Linked DNA regions of Homo sapiens. The protein of the gene in region 1 purifies or fractionates together with the protein of each later gene. This does not show direct contact. Each region holds a gene or a part of one and is shown on either strand. Other genes may lie near its edges.

Region 1 (3,822 bases):
CAGAGAAACCAGACAAGCCAATCTGGACTTCTGATGTACAGGTACTGTGAGGTCATAAATTTATGTTGTTTCAGGCCATTAAGTCTGTGGTAATTGGTTACCACAATAGAAAATGAATTATTTATGGATTTTTTTTTACCTTTATTGATTTACTTTTCCTGGTATATTTTGCTGTTCCCTTATAGTTACCTAAGTAAATAGCTTATGTATTTTAAGTTTTCTTTCCAAAAAATATAATAAAAGCATTTAAGCCTATATTCCTCTGGGAACCATTTTAATTAAACCCCAAAGATTTTTATTTATTTATTTTTTTGAGATCAGGGTCTGGCTCTGTTGCCCAGGCTGGAGTGCAATGGTATAATCTCAGCTTACTGTAACCTCTGCCTCCTGGTCTCAAGGGAGCTGTGCACCTCATCATCCCAAGTAGCCAGGACAACAGGTGTGCACCACCCTGCCCAGCTAATTTTTGTGTTTTTGTTTTAGAGATGAGGTTCCGCCATGTTGCCCAAGCTGATCTCAAACGTCTGGGCTTAAGCGATCCACTGGTCTCAGCTTTTCAAAGTGCTGGGATCACAGGAGTGAGCAGTGCACTATGCCCAGCCAGGACCCACAGATTTTTAAATAGGTATTCTCTTTATTGCTAATTGTTAGATCAGTCTCTCTCTTGATTTCTCTCTCTCTCGATCTCTCTCTCTGTCTTTCCTTTATTTGTAGAGACAGTCTCCCTATGTTGCCCAGTCTGGTCTTGAACTTCGGAGCTCAAATGATCCTCCCACCTCGGCCTTCGAAAATGCTGGAATTATAGGCATGAGCCAGCATGCCCAGCCTGATATTTCTTAATTTTACATATTAAGATATAGAGCAGAGTATAAGTTGGTTTTTAGAGAATCCAGATTAAAAGTCATATCCAGTATAAGAAATCTTTATTTCTTATTATTTTGTTCTGTGAATTCTGCAATTCTGGTGCTCTCTGAGGGGAAAATAGTTATAATAGAAACAAATGTAAAGAATGTTTAGAAAACATTTACAGTCACTGGGCGCGGTGGCTCACACCTGTAATCCTAGCACTTTGGGAGGCTGAGGCAGGCGGATCACCTGAGGTCAGGAGTTCAAGACTAGCCTGGCCAACATGGTGAAACCCCATCTCTACTAAAATACAAAAATTAGCCTGGCACGATGGTGGGTACCTGTAATCCCAGCTACTTGGGAGGCTGAAACAGGAGAATCACTTGAACCCTGGAGACAGTGGTTGCAGTGAGCCAAGATCGCAGCACTGCACTCCAGCCTGGGTGGCTAAGCGAGACTCTGTCTCAAAAAAAAAAAAAAAAAAAAAGAAAAGAAAACATTTACAGTCTCTGAATTGTTTTTATAACTTGCTTGTAAATACACTGAAATACTGACCTGTAACAAATAGCATATGACAGCTATCAGTCCAACCCAGCTGTGCAGACTGTACATATTGGCTATATTGTTAACATTGTGGTTCTCAAACACGGCCACCACAGAGATAATTGCAAGAATGGCAGCAACTGCATTTAACCCTGCATGGATGGATTTCATCAGGAGCTTGCTGCATTTCCAGGTCCACGGCAGTCTGTAGACGATGATGGCTAGGGAAAGACGAAAGGACACAGAATGTGTTTTGTTTTGTTTTTTAAACAACACAAAATGAACAGTTTGACACACTGGACACTCCCTTTTTGAAACCTTTTTCCCTTGGCTTTTGCTTCTCCCCTCTTCCCCATGTTACCCCTGCCTCTCAGTGGCTCCCTCTAGGGGACGGTGGAGGAGTTCCTTTGCTGGCATTTTCTTCACTCCCAACTTGTGAATGAACCTTGGTGCCTCTCAGGCTCGGTCCTAGGGCTTTTTCTCCCTCTGCACTCCCTCTTGTGGGTGATCTCATTCACTCTTTCACTGAAATGCTGTCTCCATGGCAGGGACTCCAAAAAATTTATATCTCCAGCCCAGAACTGTCTTCTAAGCTTCAGATCTGCATAATCCAATGTCTTCTTGGTATTTCCGTACGGCGTTTGCTTCCCAGACATCTCAAACTTATCCAAAACCAAATTCCTAATCTTAACAATCTGATTTATGCCTGTTGTCTCCTTTCTTCTTAAAAATGTCTCAGTTTGGCCGGGCCCAGTGGCTCATGCCTGTAATCCCAGCACTTTGAGAGGCTGAGGCGGGGTATCACTTGAGGTCAGCAGTTCAAGACCAGCCTGGCCAACATGGTGAAACCCCATCTCTACTAAAAATACAAAAATTAGCCAGGCATGGGGTGGCATGCACATGTAATCCCAGCTATTCTGGAGGCTGAGGCACGAGAATCGCTTGAACCCGGGAGGCAGAGGTTGCAGTGAGCCGAGATTGCGCCACTGCACTCCAGCCTGGGCAACAGAGGAAGACAAAAAAAAAAAAAAAAGTCTTAGTTTGATAAGAAAAAGAAAGGAACAGAAAAACATGCAAATTTAAACCATGCAATAGAGAAATACAAATTTAAGCCGAATGAGAATACCTCTACCACATATCTGAATGGCTAAACCTGGAAAACACCAAGTATCAAAATGAATATACAGCAGTCAGAACTCTAATGTTCTGCTGATGAGTGCTTTAATGAGAACAAAACTTTGGAAAACTGGCAGTATCTACTTAAGGTAAAGTTATGCATACCTTATTGTCCAGCAATTTCACTCTCGGGTATATGCCAAAAAGAAATATTTATATGATCATCAAAAGATACTAGAATATTATTAGCAGTACTATTTATAGTAACCAAAACCTGGAAACTCCCCCAAATGCCCATCATCAATAGAATGAATAAATAAATTTACACCATGGAAAGAAACGATCTACAACTAGAACTAGACCCAGTAATATGGATCAACCTATAATGTCAATCTCAAGAAGCCAGACGTTAACAAGTATATAGTGTAATTCAATTTATATGAAGTATAGAAACCAGCAAAACTCATCTCTGCATTGGAAAAGTCAGGATAGTAGTTGCCTTCGTGGGGAAGGATACAGCAATTACAATGGAACACACAAGGGATTTTGAAGACTCCTACTAACATTCTGTTTCTCAATCTAGGTGCTGGTTTCACAGGTGTCATAGACAGAAGATTCATCATTCTGCATGTAGAACAAACTCCAATTAAGTTTTTTATGGCCTGGCGCGGTGGCTCACGCCTGTAATCCCAACACTTTGGGAGGCCGAGGTGGGCAGATCACTTGAGGTCAGGAGTTCAAGACCAGCCTGACCAACATGGTGAAACCCTGTCTCTACTAAAAATACAAAAAAATTAGCCAGGCATTGTGGTGCATACCTGTAATCTCAGCTATTTGGGAGGCTGAGGCAGGAGAATCGCTTGAACCTGGGAGGCAGAGGTTGCAGTGAGCTGAGATCATGCCACTGCACTCCAGCCTGGGTGACAGAGCAAGACTCCGTCTCGGGGAAAAAAAAAAAAAGAAAACAAAAGTTTTTTTACAAAGGGTTGTCTTAAGTGTCCTGGTTTAAGCAATAAATTATATGGCCACCTTAACCAACATTCAGTTAATTTTTGTTCTGAAGATAAAATCCTGCCCCTATCCATCCCTCCAGTCTGTGTCAGGGAAAATTTAGATATCTGGAAATGTGTGGCAGATTGAAAAAGTTTATAGAATACTTCCTCAGACGATGGATTCCACTATATCAGCAGGGTATCACGTATATTTCTTTTCTTTTCTTTCTCTGTCACCCAGGCTGGAATGTAGTGTTGCGATCACAGCTCACTGCAGCCTTGACCTCCTGGGACCAGGTGATCCTCCCACCTCAGTCTCCTGAGT
Region 2 (3,822 bases), on another chromosome or scaffold:
TTCTTTGAACTCACATGGTCTGGTAGGAGGACAGGTCTGCAGTAACTGGGAACTTGGGTGAGTTACCCAACTGCTGAGCCTTGGTTTTCTCGCCTAAAAGAAATGTCTCCAATACTTAGCATGGAACCTGGTATGTAGTAATAGGTCTTTAGTAAATGTTTAAATGGCTATTGAAACTAGGCTTTGTGAACAAAAAATAAAGGAACAGATCCTGGAAAAGATGGGTAGAGCATGAACCTTGCAAAATTTGAAGAGTTACTATTAGTTGAAGGATGGAATAGATTTACTCCCTACTTTTCCAGCTGCTAGGATTGAGGAAAAACGGATTTTTGATGCGGCGTAGGTTAGAACTTCATAGTTTTCACAAAAAGACAAGCGTCCTTTACATCACGCTTCTAATGTAAAGGGCCAGATAATACATATTTTAGACTTGTGGGTTATATTATGGTCTTTGTTGCAACCACTCAGCTCACCTCATGTAGTGCAAAAGCAGTCGTAGACTCCTATATGAATGTGCGCTGTGTCTCAAACTGCTTATGGATAGTAAAATTCACTTAGTATATTTCATATCATTTTATGTGTCATGAAATACACATTTGTGTTTTTTTTCCAATCACTTACAAATGTAAAAATGATTCCTAACTTGTAGGTTCCACAAAAATAGGCAGTGGGCTGGCTTTGCCCTGTAGGTTGTTGTTTGTTAAGCCCTGCTGTAGGTGATCAACTGTCATAGTCTGTTTAGGAATCTGGGTTTACTCAAGGGTTGGGGATGTATGGAAGTTAGACGGTATTTCTAACTTTCATCCCAGCTCTAGACTTAGAGCTGGAAGATCTGGGTGGTAATCCTCCCTCCTTTCCTCCTTCCTTTCCTTTCTTTCTTTCTCTTTTTTTTTTTCAAGAGTCTTGCTCTATCTCCCAGGCTGATGTGCAGTGGCTTCATGTTGTCAGCTCACTACAACCTCTGCCTCCCGGGTTCAAAGCTATTCTCATGCCTCAGCCTCCTGAGTGGCTGGGATTACAGACGTGCACCACCCCCGCCTACGCCCCCCCCCCCCCGCCCCCGCCCCCGCCCCGGCTAATGTTTTGTATTTTTAGTAGAGACAGGGTTTCACCTTGTGGGCCAGGCTGGTCTCAAACTCCTGGTCTCAAGTGATCCGCCCACCTTGGCCTCCCAAAGTGCTGGGATTACAGGCATGAGTCACTGCACCCGGCCTTCCCTTGTTCTTAGAAGCTTGTTAAGTAACTCATCTTGTACTTGTCTTAACTATCCTAAACTTTCTCATCAGTAAAATAGGAGGATGATAACCAAATAATTGAGGCTTAAATGGCATTAGCGTGTAAAAGCAATTCTACAAAACGTTTTCCATTTTTAAAGAGGAAAAAAAACCCATCCAACTCTCAAACCATGAAACCAAACCTGTTTTCCCTTCCTCAAGATTTAGGATTTGAAAGTATTCTATAAACTGATTATATCACCAGAGAAAGCTGTGAGGTCAAGAGGACCTTAATTTATTTAGCAGTCAAGTAACCACCATGAGACTTTGTTCACGTGGGACTGAATAAGGAACGTATGCTGTAGTAAAATGGAATAAGTATTCTCTTTATTTGTATGTCTTAATAATTCCTTTTTTCCTCAGTAGATGTGGAGTTATTCCCTTGAGAACTCCTGTAATAGTTAATTCAAATTTCAGTAAGCTCTCAATGATTAGTCTTGACCTTCTGAGAGAATATTTATGTTTTCATTTTCAAAAATGGAAGTAAGCTTTTAAGAATGAAATCGTATCTGGTGTGTAAAAAATTGTTTTAAAGTTGATTAGTTTGACAGGATGATCAGGATTTGCAGGGGAAGGTAGGTCTTTTGAATCTTTCTTCCTACTTTGCGATAAGATTCCTGCTCTCTCCTGTGCACCACAAGGCTTTTACTTACATTGACCAAAAGCAGTTGTGAATAAAGTCTCAATCTGTAGTTCAAATGGAAGTCACAGAGACCAGGACACCTTTCATGGATGTTGGCCAAGCTAGGTCAGCGTATGTTGTATATGGTGTAGCTGTCTGAAAAGATTGGAATCACCAAAATTAGTAAAGAAAAAGAGTTCATTTGACTTCAGGAGTTGATAGTGAGGCAGTGAGGTCAAACATGCATGTGTGTTTTGACAATAATAGCCTATCTTAAATGCTCTTTTTCCTGTGAGTTGCTGAGAATATTATTTATTCATTTGCCCCAGCAGCAGTGTGGAGACCTCTCATGTGCTCTTCCTTTGAACTACTTTCAATTCCTGTGTACCAGAATAGCGTTTTTTTCATTCTTGCTGTGATATCTAAGAATCATAGACTGTTCCCTCGTGCTCTATAATGATTTTAACCACGGAGAATATTTTCATGGTATGTAGGCAACACTTTCTTCGCATTGTTCTGGTTCACAGTTTTGGATAACTGTGATTCACAAAGCCAGGCCTCAAATGAATTCTTTTGTAAATAAGGAGTGATAGTTTTTATATTGTGAGCACTCCTAGGTGGAACAGGACCAGCCTGGGGTCTTTTTTCAATTCAGATTCTTGAACCCAAACCACGAGATTATAATTTTCAATGTTTGGATGGAGACAGGAATCTTATGTTCCGAGAAGCTTCTTTTTGGAATGCAGGTGGATTTAGGAGCCTCTGGATACGCCCTTCTGTGTTTCAGACCCTTAGGCTCTGCGTGGAGGTGGGTGGGGGTGGGTTGGGGATCTGCCTGGCGGAAGAGGAGCTCTCGGTGGACCAGACTGGTTCTTTCTGCAGGCTCCTTGACCACTGCTGGTTGTTAACTGAGTAATTCCAGGAAGGGAATATTAAAAACATCAGGTAGTTAGCTAAGGGCGTTGTAATTTCTGTTTTCTGTCTTTATTGCCTGGCATGTTTGTCCACCAGAATGTAAGTGCTTTAAAGCTCAGATTCATTTTCTGGTCATTATTTTCCACAGCTCAAAATACTGCAATCGTTGCATAATTGTTGAGTTACTTTAATGGAAGAGTGAATTACAGGAATGAATCTCCATTCCTGACTCCTTACTTACCTCGAGGTTCCTCCTCCCCTAAGCATTATGCCTCTTGCTGTTCTTTTTACTCTTAGTTCCTCATCTGCTTACATGGTTTCAACTCTAGAATGGAGAATTTCACTGTTTCCCACACAAACTTAATTCTCTTCAGCCTTTTAAGCTGGGCAAGGTTTTGGGGTTCACGTTCTCTAGGAAGTCTGGGGAGGGCCTATTATGAGTCTAGATATGACTTTAAATCCAATTATAACCTCAAATAGAATTTTATGAAAATTTAAACAAGTACATATGAGCATATTTCAGAGGGAGAGAATCAAGAGCTTTCATCTGATTCTCAGAGGGATATAGGACCCAAAGCAAGTATTAAAAACTGCATCGAGACCTTTGAACTAAGACTTATCTGTGGCTGCCCTCCACGGACCACTTTGACATTATTTTTGTTGAACTGTCCTCTGCCACAAATTACAGTAAAACCATATTAAAACCTCACTGATTGGGTTTAGAAGTTGTATGCTATTTCTAGTCTTTAAGTGGCTAATTTTGCAGCTATGCATACATGATGTCTAAAGATAGTCAGTATTTAATGGCACTTCTGACAATGTAAAGATTTTACATTCCTTGAACCCTGGTGCATTCCTGAACTCACATGCTACTGCTTTCTTATTGCCCATGAAAAAATCCCTCATCAAATAGAACATTATTATTTTATACAACCTTTCTTTAGATTCACCTCTGACTTCATAGTTTCTTCAATCAGATCGTCCATCTTCTATCTCAGAACTTCCTTCTGG

Evidence for each region.
Region 2: the proteins of CYBRD1 (region 1) and CDYL purify together in Homo sapiens (affinity purification with mass spectrometry; 2 studies listed by BioGRID and IntAct, with this or other methods). This does not show direct contact.

The regions. Positions count from the first base shown.
Region 1 is NC_000002.12:171,539,373-171,543,194, reverse strand, and holds part of CYBRD1 (plasma membrane ascorbate-dependent reductase CYBRD1), read right to left. Parts: intron 1,611-3,822; coding exon 1,402-1,610; intron 1-1,401. UniProt on the Homo sapiens protein: Plasma membrane reductase that uses cytoplasmic ascorbate as an electron donor to reduce extracellular Fe(3+) into Fe(2+).
Region 2 is NC_000006.12:4,779,356-4,783,177, forward strand, and holds part of CDYL (chromodomain Y-like protein), read left to right. Parts: intron 1-3,822.